Homo sapiens: one gene and its partners. The protein of the gene in region 2 interacts with the protein of the main gene of each other region in a biochemical or structural test. Each region holds a gene or a part of one and is shown on either strand. Other genes may lie near its edges.

Region 1 (8,078 bases), on a different chromosome or scaffold from region 2:
TCCCATCCTCCAAGCACTGGGCTGGGAAGACGCCAACTCAACTGAATTTGGATGAATACTCACTCCTCCCCACTCCCTCCAAGCAGCAGAAGAAAAAGGAGTTGGAGGACAACATGAAATCAAGTGTACATTTTAAAAATCGTTTAATGGAACATAAACTCCTTTAGAAAAACATTCAGCTAGGTGATAACACCCATAGAAAAAAACACCAATCTTGTGTTTATCTTTTTTAATTTGGCATTTGTTATTTGCATTTATATTAAAGCAAAGTGCATCTTTTCTTTATTTTTCTTGTTTATACACATTGCACAATACATAAATAATGATGCTTATAAAACGTCTTTATATTTACAAGTAATAATATATTTATATATAACATAAAATACATTTTTTTCTTTAATAAATCTCAGGTTTTTTTTCAGGAGTCCTTTCTCTCTCAAAGCACTACAATGCTAAATTTCCAATGAGAATGCTTCTCTTGTTCATTTAAACCTTTGTAGTTAGAAAAATAGCTTATGTTAAAGTCTAAACATGCTCATTGAGCTAAGAACAGTGTCGAAGTATCATACGAGTGTATGAGTTGTAGAAGAAATGAAAGAAGAGTTAGGTGTCAGCCTAGGATGGTACCTTGGGTTATGACGGACCAAATCCTTCTTGGAGGGAAGGGGACTGCTAAGCATGTCCCTCCCAGGGACATCCCCGCTTGCTGGCCTAATAGCAGAGCTTAACACACAGGATGGGAGCAGGCAGTGCTGAGCTGGTTTTCTAAGTCCGGGAAAAACCTGATGTCACCAGGGCAGGCAGGGGAGAGGCTGAGGGGAGAGGGCACTGGGTGAGCAATACTGTGAGGGGGCTGCCCCGGCAGCCCTTGGGAAGCCCATCTCAGGGAGATCCAGGAGCAGATGGCCAAAAAAGAAAGACGCTACAATGGCAGGGGCTGGCAGGAAGGGAATAAGACAAGGATGAAAATAATTGGTTCTGGTTCGGCCACTAGCAGGCTCGCTGCTCAGAAGCCTGTGGACAGGCCCGTGTCCTTGATGAGGGAGAGGAGGGGCAGGGGCTTTCCCAGGCTGGGGACAGAGCCGTGCTCCTGGCAGCTGCTGGGACCCCAGCCGCCAGCTTGCCCAGGTACTGCCTCTGCCCCACTGAGCGTGTCCAAGGGGCAGGAGAGACACCGCTTGGGACTGCAAACCTCTCTGCTGGGGACATCCATAAGAGACACAAAACAAAGAGCACGTTGTCTCCCCATCTGCCGCTCCTGCACACGCGTGCACACACAGCCGCACACTCACACTCACACACACTCCTGACAAGTGAAATGATGACCGCCCCCCTTCATACACTGTGTTTGGTGGTGCTTGGATTTCTGCTTCCCCTCTTCCTATCAGGGTGTCCTGCCGATCATACCTGCCCCTTCTTCCAAAAAAACCCCCAACAATTCTTTTCATAAGCTATTTCTCAAAGAGCGAAACAAAACAGAACACAAACGAGGACGAGAAGAAGAAAACCAACCAACAAACAAAAAAAAAACGACCAAAGAGTTTGCATGAAAAGCAAGCACTCAGGAGGAAAATATTAGCAGCAAAGTAGTTTGAAGTGTGGCCTGCTCAGCTCACGCTCTGTCCCCTCCGCACGCGGCTACCGGCTGTTGAAGATGACCTCTAGCCAGCACGGGCAGCTGCTGATGAACTGGCGGGTGTAGCACTGGCCCCAGCCCTTCACAAAGCTGATCTGCACGGTAAAGCCCGTCCACGGCTGCTGCATAAACTCGTGGTCATTGGGCCGCTGCAGGCTGTACGCCTTCTCGTAGTCGAAAGCCTTGATGGAGAAACCGGGGAACACCTTGTGTACCAACAGCGTCCTGGAGTCCGGGTTGTCCAGTGTGGCGGACTTGATGAAGATGGGGTAACTGCTGCGGTTGTACACCCACACACCATCCACCTCCCGCGTCAGCTGGATGCCGCAGCCGATTTTGCTCCGCACCTTCTGCACCAGCTGACTCTTGTTGTCCGAATTGAGCTGTCCGAGGCAAAAGCCATTCCCCTGAGGTAGATCATAGAAGATATCCAGAGAGGGCTCCTGGACACAGTAGAGCCTCCCCACTCTCGTCTTCTCCTCCCAGTATGCCACCACGCACCAGTGTGACCGATCCCCAGGCTCCAGAAGAAGTTGGGAATCTAGAAAACACATTGGCAGAGAGGGTTAGTGGGGACAGGCATTGGTGACTCCTAGAATGAAGACACCCGCCCCCCCACTGCACCCAGTCACCAGCTCATCTCTCAGGACGAGACAGAAAGAAGGAGGCGGTGAGGCTAGTCCTGGACTTGCCCAGGCTCTTACAGCCCTTTGACCAGGACCCTGCCTTTCTTTAAGCATAGGAAGCGCTGGGTGCTGCTTCTCTCCAGGCCCCTGCCCATCAGGAGTCCAGTACACCAGCATCTGTGCCCACCTGGCCAACAAAGCCTCTTCTCTGCAGAGCACAGATGCAAAGGGACCCTTAATAGCTTGGGTAGTCTGCTTTTAGGGCCTCAAAAAGCCTCAGCAACGTCCTGGAGTTACAGATCTTTCAACTGGATGGAACCTTGAAGGCCAGCTCCTCCAGCCCCTTGTCATCCTGATGAGAAAACCAGGACCCAGAAAGCCTGCTGCTGGAGTACCAGGGGATGACACAGCCAGAGCTAGAACCCAGGTGTCTAGACTCTGGGACCACCTATGCGATGGTCTCTGGGTGCCTGTCACCCAGCTCTCAAATCAGTGCCGTGGTCATGAGGAACCTATCTGGTAAAAATAAAAATGAGGGTGGCTTGGGACAAAAACATCTATATTCCTAATAGGAAAACAGTCTCAGTGTGTCAGCAGCAGCCCTGTACACAAAGGGTGAATTCATGTCAAAATGCCAAATCACAACATGCAGACCGGTATTAACCCGGGCTACCTTAACAAAGCTTCCTCCAGCCCAGACAGAAGATTATGTGTCTCAAATAGATGCGTCCCCCTTCTCCCCTTCTCTGCCGGCACCCCCATCCCCAGGGGTGCCCCCTCTCTCCCCTCCTTCCACAGAAGCATCTGGAGCCTGCAGGGCGCCCTGCTCCGCCCTCATCCCTCCCCTGCAGGCCCCGCCCCGCTTCCCTACACAGTCTTCCCACAGGCAGCCTGGGGGCCGGGGTGATTCTGGTAAGGTAATTTTCCTCAACAGGCACTTGGAGGACTTTAAAAGGGGGGTCACACGGAGGGAAAGGGAGCCCCGGCGGCGGGCATTCTGACTCCTCCTTAAGTAGGAGCCAGCGGGCAGGCCTCAGACTTGGGACCATAAATCTCCCCAGCCCAGCCAGACTGCAGGAACGCTGTGGTTTGTGGCAGCAGGGTGGAGACCGGAAGTCTTGTATTTGTTAACAAAAATGGGGACAGCAGAGGGGGAAAAGCAGAGGGGAAGGGCCCCACGTCGGTCAGGGCCTTGCCCTCGCTCCCTGCAGCCCCAGCTCCTCCTCTTGGGGACCTGGGGGGCACAAAGCAGGGGTTGAGTGTGAGATGTGTTTTGGTGTGGCCTTTGTGTTTCTGGAGTAACTGGGTTCAGAGTCAATGATGATGGGTTGCACCCTGCAGGGGGTCCATGGCGGAAGATGGGGCCGCATCCTGCTGCCCCAGCAGGCTGGGTAACTGGGGCAGCCCAGGACACTAACTGGCTCCAACTTTTACAGGCGTGTTAGGACCTGGGAACCCACTGGCTCCACTCAGTTGTTGTTGTTGTTGTTGTTGTTTTAAGTAGCAGCCAGTGTTGGATGGAGGTGCCCGTCAGTAAGGCCATACAAATGTGCACACTGCGGCCTGCTGGGGCAGCCACAGACACACACACCCAGAGCAGCGGTTCCCTACAGACACCCCAAGCTGGCCTTCCCAAATGCCTGCCCCAAAAGCTCCACAAAAAGGGGACACTGAGGTCTCATTCCTTTCCCTCAACCCCCAACCCCCACTAAAAATCAACACCAGAAAACTGGCCGGTCACCACCCCCCATGTAGCTTGGAAGTCCAGTGCTTGTGCATGTGCGTGTGCAAGACTGTGTCCATGATGTCAGTGTGTACGAGTGTGTGTTATGTGTGTTTCTGTGTGCACATACGTACTGGAACATATGGAAAACAAGACAGGGACAGGGAGAAGGTGACTCATCAGGCATTCACTTGTTTCTGCAAAGTATCCATCAACTGCTAATAAACTTGTGAGCGCTGGCAATCTTTGAACTTTCTTGCTGAGGGAACTCAGCTCTGAAGGCTACACCAAAGACCTGAACGCCCAGGGAAGGAAGGACACATTGGCATCAAGTGTGAAGCGGGGGAGAAAGCCCTCTTCCGGGAGGCACAGCACATCCACCCTTTTGGTGTGGAGGAGGGTGTTCTGAAACACAAGAAGCTTTTGCTTATTTTCCCAATTCGGGACAACAAACCTGGCCTGGAAAGGAAGACTCGAGGAGCTGCTGGGAAGGAGGCGGGAGGGAGGGTGGGTGGGAGACCCTCAGCAGAGCCTCACAATGCTTTGTTTCATGCAGCCAGGACCCACTGAAACCTGGCACCGGCCAACAGGAGGAGGAGGAGGAGGAGCAAGGGAGTGAGTGGAGTATGGACCTGAGATCGAGGTGCCCCCATGCCAGGCCTGTCAGCCACCTAGGCAAGGGGTGGAAGCCTTGTCTGCCAAGGGTGGGGGCCTCTGGGGGCAGAGGAAGCTGGGTGGGGACTGGAGCCTGAGATCTGTAGCAGGACGGGGAAGTGTCAGGTGGGTTTCTGTTTCATCTGTGCAGCCCGCCAGCAATGTGCTGCCAGACACCCCCTGGAAAAAGCATTTTTCTGCTGAGGTTAATGGCCCAGCCCAGAAAAACTGCAATGCATGGATGTCGTGAATGCTGCTGTGTGTGAACAAGGGCCCTGAAGTCCATTTGGTGCCCTAACCCACCGCAGGGAGACTCCTGCCTGCTCCTCCCTCGCTGTCCCCTCCAGCTCCCCCACCAGCAGCCTCTGTCCTCCCGTTAGGACAGCTCCAGTCTCCTCCTGCCGGGACTATCTCTAAGCACACACAAAAAACAAGCTTTCCAGCAAAACCATTCGGCAACAGCAAAGGCCCCTCGAACACACACCCTTGTGTGGACATCACACCTTCTGGGGACCCCGCACGACATCCCCCATTGCCACTACAGAGATTCCCCTTTGCCCTGAATTCCCCGCCATTTGGGCTCATTTCTGGGAAATGCTCAGCTTCATCTTCACAGAAACACAGTTCCCTGAATCGGGCCCACAGCCCACACGAGTCTCCCCACAAAGGTCTGTGTGGACGCTTTGCTCCCAGGGACTTCCCGGGCCACGTGTCGAGGGGCTGGGAAGTTCAGTCAGTACAAGGACTAAGGAAGAGCCTTGGCCTCTCGCTGATAGTTAACCTCTGAAGGCAAAACTCACAGTCCTTTGTTAATTTCCCTCAGCTTTATAACCTTTTCCGGTATTTTCCACAAACTTCTCCCCCTCCCCAGAAAACTGTACAGGGGCTTGTTTTAAAACAGTATGTGTTCATTTTAAAGCATCCAAAAGAAAAGCTGTGTTGTAAAAAGCTCACTAATCAGATGCCTGCTCACAGTTGTATCTTTTTATTACAGTGTGGGGAATTTTTGGAGCAACACCAGAAAAATGCTGAATCTGCCTAAAATTCCTTTAAGGTGTTGCCCCCCCCCAACCTTCCCCATTTCCCTTAAAGCATAAAATCCTCCCTTTAAAGGGAAGGGGGAGGTGGGTGTTGAGAAAGGAGAGGACTTCAGCCTGTGTTTGCGCTCCAACTGGGGAAGACCACTTAGCAAGGAGCTCCCTGACTCTTACAAAGAGTTATTTAATTACCCTGCTCATGAATGAACAGACCAGACCCTTCCAGGAGACCAGAGGCTCGTGAATGAACCTCACACCCCAGGTCTCAATGGCACAGGGTGACCAGGCCTCAAGGCCACATTTTAGGTTAAGCAAGGAATTTTCCCCTTCTTAAATGTTTTTCTTTTTTTTTTTTGAGATGGAGTCTCGCTCTGTCGCCCAGGCTGGAGTGCAGTGGCACAATCTCGGCTCACTGCAAGCTCCGCCTCCCGGGTTCACGCCATTCTCCTGCCTCAGCCTCCCGAGTAGCTGGGACTACAGGCACCCGCCACCACGCCTGGCTAATTTTTTGTATTTTTAGTAGAGACAGGGTTTCACCGTGTTAGCCAGGATGGTCTCGATCTCCTGACCTCGTGATCCGCCAGCCTCAGCCTCCCAAAGTGCTGGGATTATAGGCGTGAGCCGCCGCACCCAGACCCCTTCTTAAATTTTTAATTTGAAGGCGTCAGGAGATGAGAAAGAAGAAAAATGGGAGGAGGGGGGAAAGGCCTTGCTCAGTGCCTCAACAATACCATTCTCCACCTGAAGGCAGAGGGCAGAGAGGCAGAGCAGCTCCAAGAACAGCCATGGGGTTATGAGAACACGGGCACGCGTGGAAGAGAAGCTATCTGGGCCTGACTGGGCCCAGACACACAAAGAACGTACTTGTGGGGAGGGGGTCCCCCAAGATTCCATTTAGGAACAAGGGCAAGCTTGGGGAAAAAAGCCAGTAAAGACATGAGCTCCATCAGCTGATGACCCACGGTTAAATGTGCCCAATTGCTAGGGTACCGGGAGCTGGGGTCAAAGGCGAGTGAGGACGGGTCTCCACCGGCTCTCATCTCTGTGAGGCACTTGGATAATGAAGTGATATTCCTCTGCCAAAGTCCAACAGGGCCACGGGCCTATCAGCCCCCTCCTCCATGGTCCAGCAGAGCAGAAGGCTGAGGACGGAGAAGTTGGGGAGGAAGGGCGCCTGGGCAGGCACGGCCGCCTCCTGCAGGCTCCCTGTGCCAATCAGGGGCAAATGAAGGGCAGAAATGTGGACACAGACAGCTTGCACCTGGCAACCTGGGAGCGCAAACATCACCACGCCTCGCTAACGCCAGGTCCAGGGTCCTCCCTCCTCAGGACCCAGGCGCCACCAACGGTTGCCTCATCCTGTCTCTCCCTCCACAACGGACATCTCAAAGGTTAACAGCACCCATCCCCTGCTCCCAACCCTGTCAGGAAATTGGCTGTTCTGATATCAACAAGCCCTCTTCAGGGACAAGCCTAAGATAAAAGGGGACTCCAGTGCCAATCCATCCCATCTATTCTCACGCCAAACCATCATAATTCACAAGGACCCTTGCTGGTCTCTTGTTTTCAATAGGCGAATCCCTCCCCCAAATAGAGACGCGTAAAACTTGCTGAGATATCTGGGCTAACTTTAAGGGGCTGTCTCTAATCCACCATGCTCACAGCCTCATCCAAAAGAGGAAATAGGACCCCAGAGCTCCCTCAGACTCCTCAGGAAACACAGACAATGCTGGGGTTTAGAGTGAGTTCCTCATGGAGGAAACAAACCAAAATGTTTCAGGTAAACTGCGAGTTAATCAGAAAACACTGGGGCCCAACCCATCTCCACCACCCCATGCTCTCTCCCCAAACAGATCAGACGATGAATCCTGGCTGGTGGAAGGCTGACCTGAGAACACTGGATTTTTTTTTTTTCATGCTTTGCAGCATCTCCAGTGAAGTGAGATGGCTGGACTTGGGGGTGGGCAGGGGGTGCCACAGGGTCTCCTTCAAAGGCCAGGCTGCTCTCTGGTTCCCGGGCCCAGCAGGCTTCGTTTCCACCCCTTAGCGCATTCTAGCCATGGCAGAACCCCCGCCCCTGTGCCAACCCCAGAGGTGAGCCGACCAGCTACAAAGCCAGATATGCATTTCACACCAACCTCGCATGCAGCCTCCCGGTAAGTTCAGCTCATCCCTAAAACAGGGTTCCCCCAAGGCCAGCCTCATAAGGTTGCTGTACCAATTTGATGCAAAAGTGATTGGGGCCAGCTTGTGGAGAGTGCTGCACACACGTTGGTCTCATCTCTGAGGCTCCTGGGTTCTCCAGCCGCTCAGAAAATGCCCACCAGTCTTCCTGATTGTCTCCACATCCCCACACCCCATGGTAGAACAGTTCTGGGCCAATGCCTACACTTAATAAGCAT
Region 2 (8,078 bases):
AAAATCTTGGTTCTATTCTCCCTGATTGCCACCCTCTTCTTATTATCTTGTTATTTCATGAGTACTGTTGCCAAAGTACTAAGGAAATAGGTTGACTCTGCTCAGTCATTCTTTTTCTGTTACAATTCTTTTTTGTTGTTTGTTTGGCCTAGCCATCACCTTAGCAAATGGTCTAACTTGTTCTCTATGGGATATGTGACACATATTAGGTACATCCATAGGGCAGAGTTCAGGTATGTAGATATACATCATTCTTTGATGTAAGAAACTGGAAATGTGGCCTAACCCCAACATGTACCCTCACAAACCCTGTGTGGCTGAAAATTTATTTAATTTTTAAAGTTAGAATTAAGGCAATATTAATTTCATTGTTGATGGCTGATAACTATGAGGACCTTGTAAAAGAGGAACAACTGATAAAAGCTTTTTTGACTTTAATCCTAAATATAGAACCAGCAATTTAAATGTAACTTATAGTTACAAAACAGTCTTGGTTTATACTTCTGAAAACTGGGGCACAGTGACACAGAAGTAGAATAAACCATATAAAAATTGAGTCTTCAGAATAAAAAAATCTAAACTTTAGATTTTTAGAGGAGGCAACTCCCTTTACTACGGGGGAAAAAAACCACGTAGCTTATACTGAGAATAAATAGTAACTGGTTCAAAGAAACTTAAACTTTTTAATTTGACTTTCTTGTCAATTTGGTTAGTATAATGTGGTTTATATAGTCAGTACTTATTTTTCCTACACTGAACATTTTAATAGAATGCAATTTAACATCTTCTAAACTTGAAGAATTAACTGTTATGGCATAAGCAAAATAATTAAGTCAAGATGGAAAGGGTCTTACCTGAACAAAATACTGAGTTACCTCTAAAGTAACGTTCATATGTGGTTTTTAATCTCAGGAATGACCAGATAACTCAAATAAATAATCATTTTCACTTTTATAAGGCTGCAGATATAGCACTGTTTAGTACATTCTTTTAACTTTCAAATATATTAAAATCCTTGCCTTCCATTGAGGGCTGAGTTGTCAAAATCTGGAAAGTTAGTGAACTCTCAGTCATTGCACTTACTTGATCTCTTCCTGATTTATGTGATGTCATGTGACGTTCAAGTTGGGTTCTGTATGCAAAGGTGTAACTGCACAGGGAGCAACTAAAGTTATCTTCATTCTTTTCATGACGATATTTAATGTGTTCTTTCAGAGAGGTAAAGCGTTTATAGCCTCTATCACAATATGGACAGGTGAGTAATTGTGAAAATGCATCTGGTGTTCCTGTAAAAGAAAGATCATATATTTTAAATTTAAAACATTCAGAAAATATTACCAAAGTTTCCACTGAGTCCCTATGCTATGTTCCAGATATTGTGCTACCCACTTTATATTTGATCCTCAAAACAATGCAATGATACTCATCTCTATTTTATAAGAGAGAGAACAGTGGTTTCCAGGAAGGTTAAATAACTTAAAAGAAAAGTCACAGAGCCAGAAAATGATGAAGTCAGGGTTCAAATACGGGCTGTCTGACCTTCAAGTCCCATTCTTTTTCCCTAAACCATAATTCTTCCCTTTTGTCATGTGATTAGCTAGAAAAGAAAACAAAAGTAAAATTAGAATGTAGGTTGTCTTTGTAAGTGTATACAGATTAAAGGGGAATTTTGTGCTCTACAACAGAGTCTATTGGTAACAATGGTATGTATCATTATTTATTTAATGTTTATTCCTCTGATTTTGAAAATGAAACTACCAAGTCATCATCATCAAAGAGTAAACAGTACACACACACTATGTTTCCAAGAGTCCCTTGCAGGTAGGTGTGGCCATAGGACTGAGTTCAGACCAAAAAAATAGTGTGTAAGGTGGGGAAGGAAAGACTGATGGGGGCCAGATCTAGGCCTGCTACATAAACACATCCCATGCATGACCCTGCTTGTAATTTCCCCTATTGAAATACACTGGCAAATCTGCTATATAACTGTATATGTATGAATATATATAGCTTTTAGAAAACAAAGGCATTCTGAATAAATTAGTTTACTGAATGAACTTTATTTTTACACTTGGAGCTGTCTAAGCCTGACAATCCTAAAATGTAATATTTTGCCAATTAATATTATTTAACTAAGAGTAGTTTTCCATATTTGACATTTCTTCAATGAAATAAATTAAGTGATATCTTTTTGTAAACATCATCTCTATTTTCATTTTGAATTCACTATAGAAAAACAAACCACCACAGATAATTTCATAAAATCTCCAAGTGCTTTCTGAACATATATTCCTTTATTCAAGTCCATATAAATCAAATGTCTTGCTCAAGGACCAGACTGCAAATAATAGACTGAGCACCTGAATGTTAAATAGTTGGTCAAATATGTTGAGAGAGGGGCTTCAAGATGGCTGAATAGAGGCATCTGGTACTCACCTCCTCTACAAGGAAAAACCAAAATAATGAGGTAATAATCACACTTCACATAGATCATCTAAGAGAGAACACTGGAATTCAACAGAAAAGTGACAGGAAACACCTCAAGTAAGGAAGAAGGAAGTAAAGCAACCTGCAAAGGCTCTCCAATGCAGGGAAAGAGTAAGTGAGAGACCCCCAGGGGTCCACATTCCCACCATGGACTCCTGCAATCCTAGCCATGGGAGAACCCCTGGACCATCGTGGGCTCTGAGACTAACACAGGGAGGTATGTGGAGACCACATGACAATGCTGCTCCGGAGAGGGAGCTTATGCTGAATCTGTACACCCCCTGAGTTCTAAGTAGCTACAGCACAGCACTATTTTGAGAGCCCAACCCCCAACAGACTACATCCTGTTGAGCCCCACTGACATACCTCCCTTCCCAGTCATCACTAATGCTGGTTGCGGCTGCTAAGGCTGAAGTGCAAGCCATTGGCAGTGACCATACCTCCTCCCAGCAGAGGAGCTGCACACATTTTTACATGCCCCAAGGACAGACTCCCCAACAGACTGCTGCCACTGTGGGCTTCCACCGCTGGGGACAAAGTGCTAGCCACTGGCAGCGACCCTAATTTCCTCAGCAGCTGAGCTGCTAAGCATTTATAAGGGACCTGAGGACAGGCTACCCCATCCACAGCCGCTGTCTGGGGCTAAAGCGCACATTTCCCAGCTCCCTCCCTATGGCTGCTGCCACCAAGAGCAACCTTGCCCTCCCCAGTAAGAAGGCCACAGTGCAACCACTGATGTCCTTACCTGAGCACTCTGCTGGTGGCCTGGGATCATCCTGCCCCTGCCATGATAGCCAATGCCTACACACACCACCAAGGGGCCTGAGGACAGGTCCATCTGGCCCAGCTTACCTCCTCCCCAGTTTCCGAGCATGCTATTCAGGGACGTGGGGATGACCCAGCCCAGTCCAACACTGTTGTCACCTGAACACTCCTCCTGGAGGCCTGAGGTTGGGTCCACCCAACCTGCTACTATCACTACAGCTGGCACCCTCCTGCATGCACCACCGGTAGGCCTGGGGACTGACTCACCCAGCCCATTGCAGTCACTGCCAACACCAGCGTGAATCACTAGGGAACCAGAGGGTGTCCTGCCACTGCTACTGCCATTGCCCAAGTGACATCCACTGCCCAGGAGCCTGAGAACCTGCCCACCTGCCCAGCTTACCACTGCCACTACCAGCACCCAAGCAAGCCACCTGGAGTTCCAAGGATCAGCCCAACTGGACCTGCTAACACAAGGTGTCAATGTGCCACCCTGTGGTCTAAGGACAGGTACTGTAAGCCCGTTACTACCACTGCTAGGGCCCAAGGAATGGTCCACCTGGCATCCCTGTCCCAGCCAAACTTCACCTCAGCCTCCACTAACAATTGCACCTAAGCCAACGAGGAAATCACGGACCCTACTCACACTATTTATAACGAAAGATATCATACAGAAATTACACTACCACATGTACCCAGAATCAAAGCCAAAGTGCCCTACTCAACCAATGAAAGCAAATCCAAAAAACCAGAATAATTGACTATTATACCAGATGTGTGGTATCAAGGTAAGAATACAAGAAACATGAAAAAGGAAGGAAATATGACACCTCCAAAAAATACAATAATTATCCAGCAACAGATTCCAATCAAAATAAATTTATGAAATCCTGGAAAATGATTAAAAATAATGATCTTATAAAAGCTAAGTGAGATAGAAGAAAACAGAAAAGCAACACAAAGGAACCAGAAAAACAAATCAGGATATGAATGAGAAATTTACCAAAGAGGTAAGTATCATAAAAAAGAACTAAACAAATTCTGGAATTGAAGAATTCACCGAATGAAAGACAAAAGACAACTGAAAGCTTCAGCAATAGATTAGGTCAAGCAGAAGAAGAATTTTAGAACTTGAAGACAGGTCTTTTAAAATAACCTAGTAAGAGAAAAAAGAATAAAAGAACAATGAACAAAGCCTGTGTGACATATAAGAAACTATAAAGTAACCAAATATTCGAATTTTTGATGTGTTATAAGGCAAAGAGGAAACAAAAGGGATAGAAAACCTATTTAATGAAATAATATCCAAAAATTTCCCAAGTCTAGCAAAGGATTTAGACATCCAGATACAGAAAGCTCAGCGCACCCCCAAATAGATACAATTCAAAAAGATCTTCTCCATGGCACATTATATTCACTGTCAAAAGTAAAAGACAAAGAGATATTCTAAAAACAACACGAGAAAAGTGTCCAATCACTTGTAAGGGAACCTCCATACGACTAATAGCAGTTTATCAGCAGAAACTTTATAGGCAAGGAGAGAAAGAAATGATATATTTATTCAAAGTATTGAAAGAAAAAAACCCTGCCAGCCAAGAATATCATACCCAGCAAAATTATCCTTCATAAATGAAAGAGAAATAAAGTCTTTCCTAAACAAGTAAAAGCTGAGAGAATTCATGACCACTAGACTGGCCCTACAAGAAATGTTTAAGGGAGTCTTATCCATGGAAGTGACAGGAAGATATCTACCATAATGAAAACACATGAAAATATAAAATCCACTGGTAGAACAAGTACAAATAAGAAAGAGAAAGAACTCAAATGTTACCACTATAGAAAACTATCAAACCACAATAATAATCAGTAAGAAAGAAAGGAACAAATGATACACAAAACAACCAGAAATCAAAATGACAGAAATAGGCTCTAACATATCAATAATAATAACATAAACGGATTAAACTTTCCACTTAAAAGGTACAGATTGGCTGAATGGATAAAAACTGTGACCCAGCTATGTGCTGCCTAGAAGAAATTCATCTCACCTGTAAAGATCCATATAGACTGAAAGTAAAGGGACAGAAAAAGATGTCCATGCAAATGGAAACCATAGTGAGCAGGAGTAGCTATAATGAGATAAACTCTTAAATCCAGTAAACAAAACAGTATAAGGGGACAAAGAAGGTCATTAAAGAATGACAAAGGAATCAATTCAGTAAGAGGATATAACAATTCTTAACATATATGTACCCAAGACTGGAGTACCTGGCTATATAAAGGAAATATTATTAGATCTAAAGGGAGAGACAGATTCTAATACAATAATAGTTAGGGACTTCAACACCCCTATCAGCATTAGACAGATCATGTAGAAAGACACTTAACAAAGAAACACTGAATTTAAACTGCATTTTATACCGAATGGATGTGAGACACTTACAGAACATTTTAACCAACTACTAAAGGATACATATTCTTGTCATCAACACACAGAACATACTCTAGGATAGACTGTATGTTGGGACCCATGACAAGTCTCAAACAAATTTTTAAAAATCAAAATCATATCAAGTAGCTTTTAGACCACAAAGTAATACAACTATAGATTTTAATAATAAGAGGAACTTTGGAAACTCTACACACACATGAAAATTAAACAACATGCTTTTGAATAACCACGGGGTCAAGGAAGAAATAAGGAGGAAAATTTAAAATTTCTTTAAATGAAATTAAAATTAAAATTTCTTTAAATGAAAATCAAAACAGAACATATCAAAACCTATGAAATATAGCAAAAGCACTAAGAGGAAGTATATAGCAATAAATACCTAAAACAAAAAATAGAAACATTTCAAATAATCTAACAATGTGCCTCAAGAACTTAGAAAAGCAAGAACAAAGCAAACCCTAAATTAGGATTTAAGAAGGAAAGAAATAATAACAATCAGAACAAAATCAATGAAATGAAGACTAAAAAACAACACAAATAACAAAACAAAAAGTTGGTTTTTTTGAAAAGGTAACAAAACTGATAAACCACTAGCTAGACTAAGAAAAGAACAGAGAAGATGCAAATAAAAAATGAAAAAGAAGACTAACAAATGATACCACAGAAATACAAAAGAGACAATTATGAACAACTATACATGAAAAAACTGAAAAACCTAGAGGATATGGATAAATTCCTGGACACAGCCTACCAAGATTAAATTAGAAAGAAATAGAAAACCTGAACAGACCAATAATGAGTAATGAGATTGAATCCATAATGAATATTTCAAGTCCGGGACTGAAAGGGTTCACTGCTGAATTCTACCAAACTGTCAAAGAAGAGCTAACACTAGTTCTCCTCAAACTATTCCAAAAAACTGAAGAGGAGGGAATTCTCCCTACTTCATTCTATAAGTCCATCACTATCTTGATACCAAAACCAGAGAAAGATGAAACAAAAAAAGGAAAACTATCCAGGTCAATATCCCTGATGACAACAGATACAAAATCCTCAAAAAAATATTCACAAACTAAATCTAACAGCACGTCAAAAAGATAATGCAATATGATCAAGTGGGATTTATCCCAGGGATGCAAAGATGGTTCACCTCCATATAATAAAGGACATATATGACAGAACCACAGCATACTGCATGGAACAAGCTGACAGACGTCCCTCTAAGAAGTGTAATCAGAAAAGGATTTCCACTCCTTCACCACTCCTATTCAACACAGTATTGGAAAGTCCTAGCCAGAGCAATTGGGCAAGAGAAAGAAATAAAAGCCATCCAATTTGGAAAAGAAGTCAAATAGTCTCTCTTTGCAGACTATATGATCTAATATCTAGAAAAACCTAAAGACACAACCAAAAAACTGCAATCTGCTAAATAAACTGAAAGTTGCAGGATACAAAACTCAACATAAAAATCAGCAGTGTTTCTGTACACCAATAATGAACTAGACGAGAAATAAATCAAGAAGACCATCTCATTTATAGTAGCTACAAAAAAGTAAAATACCTAGGGATAAATTTACCCAAGAAGGTGAAAGACCTCTCCAAGGAAAACTACAAAATATTGATGAAAGAAATTGAAGAAGACACAAGTAAATGGAAAGACATCCCATGCTCATGGATCAGAAGAATTAACATCATTAAAATGATCATATTGCCCAGAGCGATCTACAGATTCAATCCAATCCCTATCAAAATATCTATGTCATTTTTCACAGAAGCAGAAAAAACAATCCTAAAACTTTTACGGAACCACAAAAGACCAATATAGCCAAAGCAATCCTGAGCAAAAAGAACAAAGCTGGAGACATCGCACTACCTGACTTCAAAATATAATACAAGGTACAGTAAGGAAAACAGCATGGCATTAGTAAAAAACAGACACACAGACCAGTGGAAGAGAACAGAGAACCCAGAATAAAATCCACATTATTAACAGCCATTTGATTTCGACAAGGCACCAAAAACATACACCAGGAAAAGGACACACTCTCCAATAAATGGTGCTGGGAAAACTGAATATTAACATGTGAAGAATGAAACTGGACTCCTATTTCTCACCACATACAAAAATCAACTCAAGATCAATGAAAGACTTAAACATAAGACACAACACCATAAAACTAGAAGAAAACATACAGAAAACACTCAGGACATTTGGGTAGGCAAAGACTTTATTGCTAAGACTCAGCAAAGGAAACAACAGAGTGAATATCTGCAAATTACTCATCTGACAAGGGACTAATATGAAGAATACACAAACTATTCAACAGATTTAAAAAACCCAAATAATCCTATTGAAAAGTGGGCAAAGGATATG
Region 3 (6,530 bases), on a different chromosome or scaffold from region 2:
AGTGACCCCACTGGAATGTCAGCTCCATAAAAAAGGGACCACATTTGTTTTGTTCACTGATATGTCCCATCTCTGCTACAGTGTTGGGTGCAGATGCATTGAAGTCTTATTTGATTCATATTGATACTTGTGCTTTTTTCTTTCCCTTCTAGGACACGAGAGACTTCCTAAACAGGTAAAAGAGTCTCCTCTCCATGGCGTACCTCATCCCCCTTGTTTATGTTCCCCCGCTTCTGACCAGGTGCATTTGAATTCATGGGGAGTGGTATGGTGCCAGAGGTACTCACATCCCATGGTTCATCCTGATGCCCTTCTGAGGAGCAGGACACATCATTGAGAACTGGAGACTTGCTCTCCTCCTTATGGTTCTCTGTGTAGCCCCAGCTCCTTGGCCCACTGGCCTTATTTGAGGTGGGACAGAGCAGAGAGGTTAGAAACATGGCTTAGTAGACAGAGCGCCCTGGATGTGGAGTCTACTGATGTTCTGAAGCCCTGGTTCAGCTGGTGTCTTTGGGCCACTGTTTTTCTGTCACTTGTTTGGGGATAATCATACCTTTCCTCTCCCCTTCATAATTGCCATGAGGATTGAGAGATAAGTATGAAGGAAAGTAAGAAGAGCTGAGTAACAGCTTGTTATGTATGTCATCTTCTTAGGTATCCACGGAAGAAGTTCTGGGTTGGGAAACCCATTGCTCGAGTGGTTAAAAAAAAGACCGGAGAATTCTCAGATAAACTCCTCTCTCTGCAACGAGGCCTGAGGGAATTCCAGGGTAAGGGTTGGGGAGCGCACAAAGGGTGGGAGTCAGAGCAGGGCTACCTCGTAGAAAGAGCGCACCCAGCTCCTTTCCATCACCTTGTCGATCCTCACTCTTCTGAGGGCCTCTTGTCTTAGACATGGATCCCTATCAGGAAATTGATACTGCCCGAGCAAGAAATGGGCTCATAAATTTTCGGGACTTGAGTCATTGCTGTCCTTTTTTCTCCCCAGGGAAGCTGCTGAGAGACTTGGAATATAAGACAGGTGAGTGTCTAGAGGGTGTTTCCCAGATGTACATCAAATATAGAAAACTCCGCCTGCAGAGATTCTGACTGCTCACTTTTCCCCCAGGTAGCCCCTTTTGCAACAGGAAGAATTTCCCAGCTGCACAATAGAAGCCCCCCTCCCTCTTTGCACTTTCTAATCAGCCTACTCTTTAGTCTGCAGTAGAGGCCTCTGCTTGCTAGTCTGATCCTTCTCTGCCCTGTGTTTGCTTTTCTTTTTCCTATCCTCACAGGTCCTACCACCAGTCCTTTTCCTGTGGCCGAGCTTTCTCTCATCTTCCTGGCTGCATGGCTCCTATATTCAGAGCAAACAGCAGGGGCAACCTAAGACCAGAGGCCATATCCACCACAGGCCCCACTATTGTGCCCCCTCTCAGCCCTGCAGTTAGGTTGTACACTGCATACCAACCACCAAGGAGCGCCATCCACATAGACCAAGATGTGAATGGTGCCCCTTGGATTGTGAAGACTGGTGGTCTCCTCCTGGCTCACTTTCACACTTGCTTTCGTGAGAACCATTGAGGAGGTCGGCCTGTCTGGGAGCAAACGAGGCCCTGAGAGCTTCATCTAGTTCACAGGATAAAATCCCATAGCAGAACTGAGTTAGCAGTGGTTAAACCTTAGGTGGTTGTAGCTTCTTTATTAATGTCTGAGCTGTCTGTGAATACCGTCAAATTTTACCTATCAGGTTATTCTAATTATAGAGAATCCTATGAGGATGATGGTGAGGATTATCCCACTCTGTCAGTACCTGTTCAGGGTTTCTTGAACCATCTTACAGAGCAGGCTGGTAGTTTTGAAACTGAAATTGAACAGTTTACAGAGACCCTGAATGCTTGTGTTACAACAGATGATGCTTTGCAAGAACTTGTGGAACTCAGAGGCCACATCTGTCCCAAATTTCTTTTTTTTTTTTTTTTTTTTTTTTTGAGACGGAGTCTCGCTGTCGCCCAGGCTGGAGTGCAGTGGCGCAATCTCGGCTCACTGCAGGCTCCGCCTCCTGGGGTTCACGCCATTCTCCTGCCTCAGCCTCCCGAGTAGCTAGGACTACAGGCGCCCGCCACCTCGCCCGGCTAATTTTTTGTATTTTTAGTAGAGACGGGGTTTCACCGTGTTAGCCAGGATGGTCTCGATCTCCTGACCTCGTGATCCACCCGCCTCGGCCTCCCAAAGTGCTGGGATTACAGGCGTGAGCCACCGCGCCCGGCCTTTTTTTTTTTTTTTTTTTTGAGATGGAGTCTTGCTTTGTCTTCCAGGCTGGAGTGTAGTGGTGTGATCTCAGCTCACTGCGAGCCCCGCCTCCCAGGTTCACGCCATTCTCCTGCCTCAGCCTCCTAAGTAGCTGGGACTACAGGTGCCCACCACCATGCCCGGCTAATTTTTGTATTTTTAGTAGAGATGGGGTTTCACCATGTTAGCCAGGATGGTCTCGATCTCCTGACCTTGTGATCCACCCGCCTCGGCCTTCCAAAGTGCTGGGATTATAGGCGTGAGCCACCGTGCCCAGCCCCAAATTTCTCTTACATGGGAGCTCACCTGTGTAATTACCTGACATCATCTGACAGTTAGCACAGAGAGTAGCACCTTCCGCCAATTTCTACTTCAAAGATGTCGGACTGAATATGACATTAAAGATCAAGCTGCAAAAGGGGATGAAGTTACTCCAAAACAATTTCATGCATTTGTACCCTTTCTGGGAGAGCTTTATCATAACCTGGAGATCAGAGGAACAAATGGACAGGTTACAAGGGCAGATATTCTTCAGGTTGGTCTTCAGGAGTTGCCGAATGCCTGAATGCCCTCTTTTCTAATCCCGTGGATGACAGCTTAATTTGTGCAATAAAATTGCTGAAGTTGACAGGGTCAGTTTTGGAAGATTCTTGGAAGGAAAAGGAAGGACTGATATGGAAGAAATTATTCAGGAAATTGAAAATGTTGTTATAGATGCAAGCTGTGGCAGAGACATGAAACAGATGCTCTTGAAGCTTGTAGAACCCCAGTGCAGTAATTGGGGTAGAGTCCATGCAACTTCATCATACAGAAATACAACAGCCAAAAAAGATCCCAATTACTATGTGAATGAACCAACATTTTATAGTGGTCATTCACATAGTTATTGTGTTTCATAGTGTTCCTTTCACTGCAGCTGATCCGGATTACCAAGAAGCATATCAAGAGTTACTTGAAAAAGAGGACTTTTTTTCTGGATTATGAAGAAAATGGAACAGATTTTTCAGGGACTGGTGATCCACACTTGGATGATATTAATGATGAGTTGGACCCAGAGATCCAGAGATAGAGGAAGCTTATGAAAAGTTTTGTTTGGAATCAGAGCGTAAGCGAAAACAGTCAAGTTAAATTTCAGTATATCATGTTTATAAAGCAGTTTAGTTATGGTGATTTAGCAGAATACAAAGCCAGAAAATGTGTCACACTTATACCAAATTAAGGATGTTGAGTTATATTACTAATGTATGCAACTTTAATTTTGTTTAACGCTATCTGCCAAAATAAATTTTATTCCCTCTGACTTAAAAAACAAAACAAAACAGTGATGCTGTTTTTTTTTTTTTCCCTTGTCCCCACAGTGAGCGTCACCCTGGACCCACAGTCGGCCAGTGGGTACCTGCAGCTGTCAGAGGACTGGAAGTGCGTGACCTACACCAGCCTGTACAAGAGTGCCTACCTGCACCCCCAGCAGTTTGACTGTGAGCCTGGGGTGCTAGGCAGCAAGGGCTTCACCTGGGGCAAGGTCTACTGGGAAGTGGAAGTGGAGAGGGAGGGCTGGTCTGAGGATGAAGAAGAGGGGGATGAGGAGGAAGAGGGAGAAGAGGAGGAGGAGGAAGAGGAGGCCGGCTATGGGGATGGATATGACGACTGGGAAACGGACGAAGATGAGGAATCGTTGGGCGATGAAGAGGAAGAAGAGGAGGAGGAAGAGGAGGAAGTTCTGGAAAGCTGCATGGTGGGGGTGGCTAGAGACTCTGTGAAGAGGAAGGGAGACCTCTCCCTGCGGCCAGAGGATGGCGTGTGGGCGCTGCGCCTCTCCTCCTCCGGCATCTGGGCCAACACCAGCCCCGAGGCTGAGCTTTTCCCAGCACTGCGGCCCCGGAGAGTGGGCATCGCCCTGGATTATGAAGGGGGCACCGTGACTTTCACCAACGCAGAGTCACAGGAACTCATCTACACCTTCACTGCCACCTTCACCCGGCGCCTGGTCCCCTTCCTGTGGCTCAAGTGGCCAGGAACACGCCTCCTGCTAAGACCCTGAGCCCTGACATCTGCCCCCAGCCCCAACCCTCAGATGCTTCACTTCTTTGGAATTCCAGGACTCTCAATGGGGGGACGGGATGCCTGGCCTAAGCACCTGGAGCAGGGGACCCCATATCCACTGGTAGCCACCTCCCCATTGCTGTGGCCCCCTGAAATCTCACTCAGTGCTGTTGCTCCATCTACTGCCCTAATGGGGCTCTTTTCCCACCTCCTGCTGGTTTCCCGAGGGAACTTCTGACCCTGGAGTCCATGAGGGCTCCTTTCCTTTTTGACCACGACCTTGGCCCCAGCTCTGCACTCTCTGGAATAAGGGCCCGATGCAGCATTTTCTTGCCCAGTGTGGCAAGACCTCAGAAAAACCAGTCAATTACGCCTAAGATCATTTTGCTGTCCTTAAACCCCCCAGGTTCCTTCTTGCACAAATCCACTCTGCTGCCCACCTTCCCTGGCATTTTAAACAGACCTACCCCACCCCAACTCAGAGTTAAGCATACATGGCAATGCTGAAAATAAACAAAATCCACTGAGGCTTCCCAGGCCATTTAAAGCCTGGAGTACCAGCGCATATCATCTCATGGGGTCCAGAGTGGAGTCCAGGCTTCTCTGAAACCAGGGCTGAGCATATTTCCATAGCCAAGGAGGTGGGACTCCCTGGAGCTATCTGTGGTCTTAGGGAAGGATCCAGACATACACGGCTTTGGGGTACAAGCTGTGATCACTGATCAATAAATTATCTCTAGATTGGTCCTTGTGAGGGGAGTTTTAAGAATCCAGAACATCTTGCTCTTGATCAGCACATCCAAAAACACCAAGACAAACATCCAGTGGAGCAGAACCTCTCCTGCCTCGGGAGTTCTGACCGGGTTCCCCAGCAGGGTGTTAAGCCTCTGTCTCTGGCCCTACCAGCATCCAGGTTCCACTTTCCTAGGAGAGAGTGGAGATGGGAAGACAGGGAAAGGAAGGCAGCAGGAGGCCACAAGCCCACCAGGTCTTCATGTCAAGAGAGGGAGTAACATGTCTTCTCATTGCCCACGGACCCAACCTCTGTCCAGGTGCCCCTCATCATCACAGTTTAACACAAGCTCCCCTGCTCCAGCCAAATTGATCTCCCAGTCTTGTCCTTACCCATTCCAAGTGCTCTGCCAGCCCCTGTTCATCCAAGTTTTAAGTCCTCCACCCTGTTCTAAGAGACTGTTCCAACGGCTCTGGGCCTCAGTGGTCACTTGACCACCATTGTCTCAGAGCTGCCCACTTTGTGTGTGTCACATGCTGCCTGAGTCACATGTACATCTTATTTCTGCCTCTAGTTTTGTAAGCTCCTGGAGGGCGGATAACATCTTATACTACTCTTGTATTCTCATGGCACCTAGTGCAGTGCTGGGCACAGAGTAGGTGCTCAATAAAGACTTGTTGAATGAACAGCCTGGAGATCTGTATTTGTAGGTCTATATCTATATTATATCTCAAATGCCACCAGACCTCAGTCTGGCTACAGAGAAATTCCACTGATAGCAGTAGCCGAAGGTTTTCCTTCTGTGCCTTCTGTAACAGTGTAACTTTGCTTTCTGTTCTCTGCACACATGCTGTCATTTCTGGAAGTCCCTCAAAAAGAGCCTACTGCGGAACACAGACGAGTTGTTGCGTGGCTCCACCTTTTTATTCCTCCTGCAGTGGTGCCCTTGAGCTGAGGTCCAGCGTTTTGGAGCAAGTGATGACTCTCCCTGAGAAGGGAGACCTCCAGTATAGCACACCCAAAAATTCTTCCTTGGAAAATAAGCACTGCCTCAGAGGAAATAGAATGTGCAGAGATTCAGCCTTGCATCCTAACACAGTCAACTGTTTTTCTTGTCCTTTCTGATTTTTTTTTTTTTTTTTTTTTTTTTTTTTTTTTTTTTTTTTTTTTTTGAGATGGAGTCTCACTCTGTCTCCCAGTTTGGAGTGCAGTGGCGCCATCTCGGCTCACTGCAAGCTCTGCCTCCCGGGTTCACGCCATTCTCCTGCCTCAGCCTCCCGAGTAGCTGGAACTACAGGCGCCCGCCATCACGCCCGGCTAATTTTTTTGTATTTTTAGTAGAGACGGGGTTTCACCATGTTAGCCAGGTTGGTCTTGATCTCCTGACCTCATGATCCACCCACCTCGGCCTCCCAAAGTGCTGGGATTACAGGCGTGAGCCATCGCGCCCAGCAGTCCTTTCTGATTTTTTAAATTGCCATCT
Region 4 (8,994 bases), on a different chromosome or scaffold from region 2:
AATGTTTTTCTTTTAAAGCTCTTTAAACTTTATTTTAAAATATTATTTTTCTTTCAAACTATTTAGCTGGTCAGCCACAGCTGGAACACCAATTGTGAAGTTTTTGCTGATAAAGGAATACTCCCTGACTTCACAAGATATTTCTGTAAAAACAAATGACATAGAGTAGCATCAGAACACTTCTACTCCCGTTGTCCCCACCTAAAGCATTCTTTTCATTTCATTATGCTTTATGTGACCATTTTCAACCTCTTCTCCCTCTCCCCATTTCTTAAGGTTGAATGGTCACTGGTTAGTATTCATTTTTTTCTTCCGACAGACCCATGGGCCATGCTAAAATAGGTTCTTTATATCAAGATACTAGCTGTCACATAGGTGTTACTGTCATTGTCCATTCCAAGTAGGTCTGTGTGTCACTTCAAAATCCTTGCCTAATCATTTACTTTTTTTTCAGTAAGTGGTCTGGTAAGACTAGTCTTTCTCTAGACCCTGTTTGTGATAGAACAGTAAATACCCTTCACTGTAGAGTAAGTCCTCAATGGTAGCCTTGGTGATGATGGCATCATCACAGCTGAACCACTGGTCCTTTTGTTGCCGGATGAAGCTGGTATAGTGGCCACTTTCCAAAGTTCCATGGTGATTAATCACTGCAAACAAGGAATACTTATTCTCATTGGGCACACAATCTGTTGGTGGCTGGCCTTCTTTCATTCTGCTCTCTTTAGTAGAGGCCAAAAACGGAGTCATGTCCAGCTCCAAGGGAAAGGAGATAAAGGTATTAATCTTTCGCCTCTGTTTGCCTACATGCTCAAACCGCTTGAGATGAAAACAAGCCACAATGGGTAATTTTTTCATTGTGAGCTGTTTAGTAGACTCCTGGTAGCTTTGGCAACTATTGCATTTGATTTTGGCACTGCTTCCTAGGTGCTCTGGCCTTGTAAACCACTGTAGACAGTCTGTAAGTGAGGGGATTCCTGGTATGTGGTCATCCCTGCTCACTGTGCTGTCAGCCCTCTCTGGGTTCTGGGAATCGAATGTGGCACAAGAGCCAGGCAAGTCCAAACTGATGTCCCAGCATGGGTCTATGGTGGTAGAAACACTATGGCAGGCTTGACATGTGACATCTGATTGCAGGCCACCTGTAAAGATTTGGTCTATGATGCAGTTACAGCAGTTGGGGTTATTGGCCTCCTGCCCACCACTATCATCTTTGCTGTGTCTATGTAGCACGTCTAATATTGCAATAAGGAACTCATGGGCATCCTGCTGCCTGTACCCTGCTAAATGTTCTGCATGGATCCATATCAGATGCAGTAACTTATAGGGAATGTGAGGAGTTCGGCTCCCAGAGTACATAGCATGAAAAAGCGAAGACATTTCACAGACCAGACACAAGCTGGGGCTTGTCATTATACATTTGTGCTTGTCAGAGAGGAAGAAATCTTTCAGTAGAGGAATATGGGTAAGTGCCTGGACAATACAATTCATAAAACAAGTGTTCCCAAGATTGATTAGCCCTCTCAGGCCTACAGTATAGACTGACTTTTTTCTTCTCTTTTTCTTGGGTTTCACCAATTTTGGCTCCTGTTCCTTTGTCTCACAGGTTGATTGCTTGTCTTCAAACCCTGATGTCATAAACTGTTGATGAGAAACATCTGTTGAGGTGGAAGTTAATAATCTCAAAATTTTTTCTTTTGTTTCTTTGGCAATCTGTTCTATGTCTTTGTCATATACATAATCCTTACACATGAAGCAATATATGACCCCATGATAAAGGTCTACAGCTAAATGGTGCTGCTTTGTTTCTGCATGTTTGTGAATATGTTTCTCAGTGAAGCAGCCAAAAAAGACACAGGAGAGACAAGAGTGGAGTCTGTTCATATGGGTACTACATACGTGACAGATGCATGACTTTGCTTTACGTTTCCTAGTCTCTGGGGTCCCACTCCAAACGAAACGCTGGTAGATCAACCTCAGGTTCTTCTGCCAGTTCTTACCTACTTTAAAGCTCTCCACATGAGAGCAGCCTGTGGGACCCTGACCAAACTCGACCTCCAGCAACCAGTCCCCTAAGCCGCCAGGATCCCCCGACCCGTCTAGGTCACCAGAGCAGCTTCTCCGTGTCTGAGGCCTGGACCCAGGCCGGGATCTGCGCCGGGATCCACGCCAGGCCCTGGGCCGCGGTGCGGGTGGGGGCGGGGGTGGCGGCGGGGGCGGGGGCCGGGCTGGAGGCGGGGGTGGGGCCGAGAGCCCAGGCTGGCTGCGGGAGCGGGCCCGGGGCTGGGGCCGAGGGCGGGGCTTGCGGCGCGGGCAAACGGGCGAGGAGCTGCTGTGACAGCGAAGGGGGATTGAAGGGAGCACCTTCTCGTCGCCGCCGCTGCTGCTCCACGTCAAGTTCTCCTCCGGCGCGGGCTCACGCTCTTGTAATGGCTCCAGCTTCATCTCCTCGGCTTCACGTCTCGAAGACGCCTTCGTAGCCCCCGCCGCCGCCTCCTCCATTTTCCCCGCCTTCTCAACCGCCTCCTCAGGAGAGGCTCCTCCCCCACCTCCGGAGATCCAGCGGACCCCAGAGCCGGAGGGCAAAGAAGTTTCTCGAACCTGGGCCATCAGATCACTCCCCGACCTGAGGAGCAAGGCGTCTGGAAAACAGCTGCGACTGTAGATGAAAGGAGACAGAGACTTCTGTGAATGATCTGCCCAGCGTCATGGCCGCGGTGCGCAGTTAGCGCCCCCAGGACCCCTCCCATCGGCCCTTGAGCTCAGCCCGCGGCTTCTGTCGGCTCCACCCACTCAACTGAGAGGCCCCTGGAGCTGATGGGGAGACCGAGGCGGTTACCTGCTTCAAAGGCGATCAGATCATGCCAGGGGACTGGGAACAGAAGGCTAGCGAGCGGTGGGGGTGGGGAACGGCCTGAGCTTTAGGACAGAAAGGATGGAAACTTCTTTAAAAAAGGCGCCACCCTCTGACTGCTTTTTTGCGCCCTGCGCAGCCTCGCTTTGGTGCAGCTTCCTCTGACGTTCTTTCCCTGTATCCTAAAAAACACTTGGGTCAACATTTTCTCTCCAAAATGGCTGAAAGGACGCACTTTTGGAAAATGAACTCACAGGAAGAAAGTGTCCCTCTGTTTCTACCTAACCTATACTTCTGTGACCCGGTGTGTTCCACTCTAAGCCGTTGCCCCTCAGCGCACTTTCGGTCCACCCAGCTCTTGCGCCCTCTCACGCTTTTTCGCGCTTGTGCTCTCACACCCCTTTTCTTGCTTCTGCGACTTCAATTCCTATGATTTCTCCTAGAATTCGGATTACTACTCCCTCCCTTCACGCATTTGCCACCTCTATGGCCACCACTATCCTCGCGCGACCCCCGAAGTCTCCGCTCCCTTTTCCCTCTCCTGCCCCCGCAACACCCCCAGCCCGGCAGTTTGTTTAAAGGTCTGGGTTACCTTGGGCCCCAGGCGCGTGATATAGAACGTCAGCAACTGCTGCTGTCCAGGCGCTCCTCAGCCAGCCTTCTCTCCTGACCTCTCCTCAGGGCTGGTCACAAGGGGGCCGCCCCCTGGCCCCTCCCCTCTCGACGTGCGGCCCCCAACCCCGGATTCTGCCCTCCTGCAGTGATGAATGGCACCGCTGTCCCGCGCAGGCAGGCAAACCTCTTCCTGAAACAGACTCTGCTGGAGGCAACAGCAGCAACAGATTCTACAGAAAGCCCCTGAAATGGAGGCTCAGGCCTCACCTAGCTCCAGGCCCGCACTCCACAGAAAAAAAGATTCACCCGGCGTGGGGGTGGGGGCTTCCAGAGATGGCAACCCTCTGGCAGGAATCCCTCAGGATCCTGTCAGAGCCTGGTCTCTGGGAGTTGACGGAGGGAGGGAGGGAGAGAGAGAGAGAGAAAGAGAGAGAGATTATCCCAGAATGTGCAGGGGAGGAAGCATAAGCAAGGGCTCAGGCTCAGAGAGACCTGAGCCCAGGCACATGCTTGCTGTGTGACCTCGGATAAAACACTTAACTTCTCTGAGCCTTAGTTGTGTCAATTTTTAAAGAGAAATTGAAATAATAACCCTAGCCCAATGTGAACACTGAGTCATAGTATATATCAAGTAAAAGACCTTTTTGGCGAGCTTTATCTGTCACACCTCTTTTTTCAGTCCGCTCCTGAAAATCAGCATAGAGAACAACTCCTGATGCAGAGTAGAGGAGAAGAGAATGCCTTTCTCTTTCAAAGCTCTCTCAAAGTTATGGCTCAGTTCACCCGATCATCCATCCTAGGCAGTCCATATACAGGAGCATGTATTCAACAAAGATGCCATAGGTGCATTATAGCGCTAGATTGTGCTGGGAGAAGCACAAGATACAACTGTTTGTGTCCTGAAGTCCATACGCCAGGAGACTTTTCCTTTTCTTTGACAGATCCGGCATCCAAGGCGACAACCCGGAGGAAAGCTATCTCCAGGGCTTGTTGCCCTTCCGGTCCAATCCCAAGAAAATTACGGTTTATTACAGCGGATGTTTAATGCTACATTTAATCTCTCTGAGAAAGTCACACACCTCCCCTCAAAACCTCACGATTAGGATTCAGCTCTCTTAACTTGGCAGTGGCATCTAGTGGATACCTCCGCACAATGGATATCACTGATTTTGTGACTTGGTTTAGATTCGACCATATCTCAGTCACATACTAGCACCCGGAGGGAAAGTGCTTTGGAATTATAGACTGGCTTGTGCAGGAAAACGTGCTTTTTCTCCCCTAGGGAAGGGCATTTTCTCAGCCACAGCTAAGCAAAGAGTTGCTCCACTCTGGGTTAGCAGCCCTAGAAGGAAATGCTGAGTCAGTCATTTGCTAGCTGTGCCACCTGTGGCTTGGATCCCAGCTGCTCTGAGACAGCCCTGCACCCTTTATGCAGGCAGGGAGGCAGGGCACAATTTATAAATACTTCTGTCTTCTGAGCCTTCGCTTTCTCCTGTGCAAAATCAGAATCATGAGAATGCCAGCCCTACCTAGATTGGTTTATTCAGCAGATATGTAAAGAGCACCTACTGCTGCACTGGGCACTATGAATATACAGCCAAACAAAACTGGGCACAAAAGCAAGTAAGCCAGAGTCCCTGCCTGAGGTCCACATCGGGAAATGCATAGGAATGTGCTGTGAAGATTAATGTTAGTTAATAAAGGCCTAAAAACCACTCGTAATCAACAACTTAATATTTGGGAGGTGGGATTGTTACAGTGCTTCAAAAAGTTTCTGAAAACAGTTGTTATTGAGCTAGACACGCCTTTAAATCAGCCCACACGCTATCGTGACCAAACAAACGATTTCTTCATTGACAATTGTCCTGTAGGAAAACCTCAGGACAGCGTGATGGGTCACTACTGTCAAAATGAAAATGAATGGGTCTGCATGGTTTAGGCCTTTCTGGAGTTCACTGGTTCCTCCAAAATGAAGCTGCGTCTAACCTTCTGGTGGACTTAACAGACTGCTAGACCCCACTCCCAAAGTTCCCAGTTCAGTGGGTTGGGTGAGGCCCAATAATTTAGGTTTCTAACGCTGTACCAGCTGATGCGGATGCTGCTGGCGTGGAGATGGTACTTTGAGAACCACTACTGTGGGATAATGTGTAAAGAAGCCCAGGTCAAGGCACTCTGGCCTTGGTAGCAGGAGCCATGTCTGATGGAGCTGGTTTCCCAGGCCTGTGTTATGTTGGCGTCTCTTACAGATTCTAGCTGTGGCAGGTGTGGCAGGGTCCTTTGGGAGTGGGGTGGTGTATGAAAGAGCAGGATTGGGAAAAAGCCTGCCTCTGTGCTCCTGGTGGCTCGCTCAGTACCTTGAAAACTGGACCCCTGAAGCCTCACACAGCCTTCTTTCTCCCAATCTGGGCCTCTTCCCCTCAATGACCTCGCTTCTCAGAGGCCAGCATCCCAAAGGGCAGACTTGGAGCCATTACCTGCCCCTGACTAGGGCTGCAGGGAGGGTGCCATGGACTGGGTTCCAGTCCTTTGGGGCCCACATTTGTCTGCCCAGCCTCCTGCCCCTGTCCCCTCACTGGATGGATCCCCTCTTCTGTTCCTTTTCTTCCTGTGCTCCAGCTCGTAGCTGGTCTGCCTCCAACCTTCTGAAGCAACAGCCTCAGACACCACTGGAGTGTGCCCTCTCCTGCCCACAGACCCATGGTGACTCCCTGTGGTCTCTTGGTTAAAATGGAAACTGCCCAACTTACTCCAACTCCCCCCCACCCCCACCCCTGAGTAGGTCCAACCTCAGCTTCATTTTCTGCTTTTGTGGGCTCCAGCACTTCAACCACAGAAGCCTCTGTATTGTCCGTGCACATGAGATTACATATGTGAAAACATGCGGCCTGTCAGTCCATTGCCTTCCCTTTGCCCTTGGATGTTCATTTCAAAACATCCCCTAGAGTAGGTGTTTTAGTTGGGGTTCTCCAGAGGGACAGAACTAATAGGATATATGTATCCTACACACACACACACACACACACACACACACACACACACACACACACGTATATGTATACATATGAAAAGGAGTTTATCAGGGAGAATTGGCTCAAATGATCACAAGGCGAAGTCCCATGATAGGCCGTCTGCAAGCTGGGGAAGAAAGCAGCCAGTAGTGACTCAGTCTGAGTCCAAAAGCCTCAAACGTAGGGAAGCCAACAGTGTAGTCTTCAGTCTGTGTCCCGAGGCCCAAGAGCCCGCCTGCAAACCACTGGTGTAAGTCCAAGAGCCCAAAGGCTAAAGAACCTGGAGTCTGATGTCCGAGGGCAGGAGGAACAGAAGGAAGCATCCCGCACGGGAGAAGGATGAAAGCCAGAAGACTCAGCAAGCCAGCTTGTCCCACCTACTTCCATCTGCCCTGCCTTACCCGTGCGGGCAGCCAATTGGATGGTGCCCATCCACATTGAGGATGAGTCTTCCTCTCCCGGTCCACGGACTCAAACGTCAGTCTCCTCTGACAACACCCTCACAGATGCACCCAGAAACAATACTTTATCAGCTATCTAGGCGTCCTTCAATTCAGTCCAATCAAGTTGACACCTAATATTAACCATCACAGTAGGGATCCTCAGCCTTTTGGTGCCTTGGATCCCTTTGATATCCTGGTACAGCCGGTGGATCCCTTAAGACAATGATATTTTTAACATAAATATATATAACTAAACACACGGGATTATAAAAATGCATTGTATGGAGATGGCATTTTGTACTTTTAGAAAGATATTGTGATGTGAGGAAATTTTTTTTTTAATTAAACCTTACATAACTATCACAAGATGGGTATAATAACTACCATAGTTTCAAAGTAGTGCTGAGCATAGGTGATACTCTGAGAAATGTGAAAGAAGTGTAATGTGATACCGAAATTTTTGTTGGCGACACAGTCACATGTAGTACTACTATCAATGGAGTTTCATGCCTAGGCTCATAGTTTTAGGACATGATCACTGTAAGTTAGAGGTGGGTGAAAATAAAGGCGCAGCTCTTTTCCCCACACACATGCACAGACCTCTCTCTGACTAGGCTTGCTTTACGATGCCCTGAGCACTTTGCCTGCTTAGTGGGCCAAAGAATTACAGACCATTTATTAAGTGCATATCGTGTGCTCTTTTCTCTTTCTTTTTTCTCACAAAACTTTGGTATGCCCTATTTATGAAGAAGGAGAGATACAAAAACAAAGAGCATTATTTCAAAATCATAAATGTGTTAACACTTAAAACTGACAGAATTAAAGAAAAAAATAGAAAACCCACAATCACAGTTGGATATTTTAACACTGCTCTTTCAATAATTCATAAAACAAAAGGCCATAAGTCAATAAAGATATAGAAGACTAAACAACACTGTGAACCAACTTGTGGTAATCGATAGTTATGAAATACACCACTAATGTACACCATAAAATACAGTCTTCCTTCAGTATCTGCAGGGGATTGGTTCCAGGACTCCCGTGAATACCAAGATCCTTGGATGCTCAGGTCTCTTACATAAAATGGTATATAGTGTTTGCATATAACCTATGCACATACGCTCGTGTACTTTAAATCATCTCTAGACAACTTATAATACCTAATACGATTATGTGAATATGGTTATGCTGTATTTTTTTTAATTTGTATTATTACTTTTTATTATTGTATTGTCATTTTTGTTTCTGTTTTATGTTTTAAAGTATTTTCAATTGACGGTTGAATCCACAAATGTGTAACCTGCAGATATGGAGGGCTGACTGTACACATCTTTTGAAATGTGCTTAGTATTCAGTAAGATACAGGAACTGAGAAACTTTTTCTTAGAAAAATAGTAAATATTTTAGGTTTTGTAAACTACTCAACTCTGACGTTTTAGTATAAAAGCATCCATAAATAATGTATAAATAAATGGGTGTGACCGTATTAAAAAGAAAAAAAACCCTTAACTGACAATAACAAGCTGCCAGCTCACAGGGCGTACTTTGCCAACCCTAAGATACACTATATTCTAGGACCATAACACAAGTTTTAACTAATTCCGAAGGAAGAAAATCATACAGAGTACATCCTCTGTTCACAACCGATTAGAAATCAATAATATTTAGATACATAGAAAAGTCTCCATTATATGGTGCTTAAAAAATCACATTTCTAAATTACCCACGAGTCAAAGAAGAAAGAGCCAAACCTGACACAGATAAAAGACCAATAAAAGACATTGGTCTTTTATTACCAGAAAAGACCAATAAAAGACATTGGTCTTTTATTACCAGAAAAGACCAATGTCCCTCATGAACCAAGATCCAAAAATTCTCAATAAAATATTAGCAAATTGAATCAAGCAAGCTATAAAAGGATATTATATAACGATGAAGTGATATTCATTAAAAATTACAAGGCTAGTTCAACATTCAGGAATGAATCTAATTCATTCATGACATTAACAGAACAAAGTGATCATCTCAACAGATTCAGAAAAAAAAGTATTTTTCCGAATTTAATCTACATTCCTAA

Evidence for each region.
Region 1: the proteins of ZEB1 (region 2) and SMAD7 form a complex in vitro, tested with the Homo sapiens proteins (one study listed by BioGRID).
Region 3: the proteins of ZEB1 (region 2) and TRIM26 form a complex in vitro, tested with the Homo sapiens proteins (one study listed by BioGRID).
Region 4: the proteins of ZEB1 (region 2) and USP51 form a complex in vitro, tested with the Homo sapiens proteins (2 studies listed by BioGRID).

What each region holds. Positions count from the first base shown.
Region 1 is NC_000018.10:48,919,734-48,927,811, forward strand, and holds the end of SMAD7 (mothers against decapentaplegic homolog 7), read right to left. Parts: intron 2,178-8,078; coding exon 1,639-2,177; 3' UTR 120-1,638; downstream 1-119. UniProt on the Homo sapiens protein: Antagonist of signaling by TGF-beta (transforming growth factor) type 1 receptor superfamily members; has been shown to inhibit TGF-beta (Transforming growth factor) and activin signaling by associating with their receptors thus preventing SMAD2 access.
Region 2 is NC_000010.11:31,503,881-31,511,958, reverse strand, and holds part of ZEB1 (zinc finger E-box-binding homeobox 1), read right to left. Parts: intron 1,287-8,078; coding exon 1,084-1,286; intron 1-1,083. UniProt on the Homo sapiens protein: Acts as a transcriptional repressor. Inhibits interleukin-2 (IL-2) gene expression. Enhances or represses the promoter activity of the ATP1A1 gene depending on the quantity of cDNA and on the cell type.
Region 3 is NC_000006.12:30,183,658-30,190,187, reverse strand, and holds the end of TRIM26 (tripartite motif-containing protein 26), read left to right. Parts: intron 1-152; coding exon 153-175; intron 176-654; coding exon 655-770; intron 771-988; coding exon 989-1,021; intron 1,022-3,629; coding exon 3,630-4,312; 3' UTR 4,313-5,733; downstream 5,734-6,530.
Region 4 is NC_000023.11:55,486,333-55,495,326, forward strand, and holds the start of USP51 (ubiquitin carboxyl-terminal hydrolase 51), read right to left. Parts: upstream 3,517-8,994; 5' UTR 3,444-3,516; exon of another isoform or gene 3,034-3,443; 5' UTR 2,837-3,033; intron 2,715-2,836; exon of another isoform or gene 2,657-2,714; 5' UTR 2,608-2,656; coding exon 472-2,607; 3' UTR 1-471.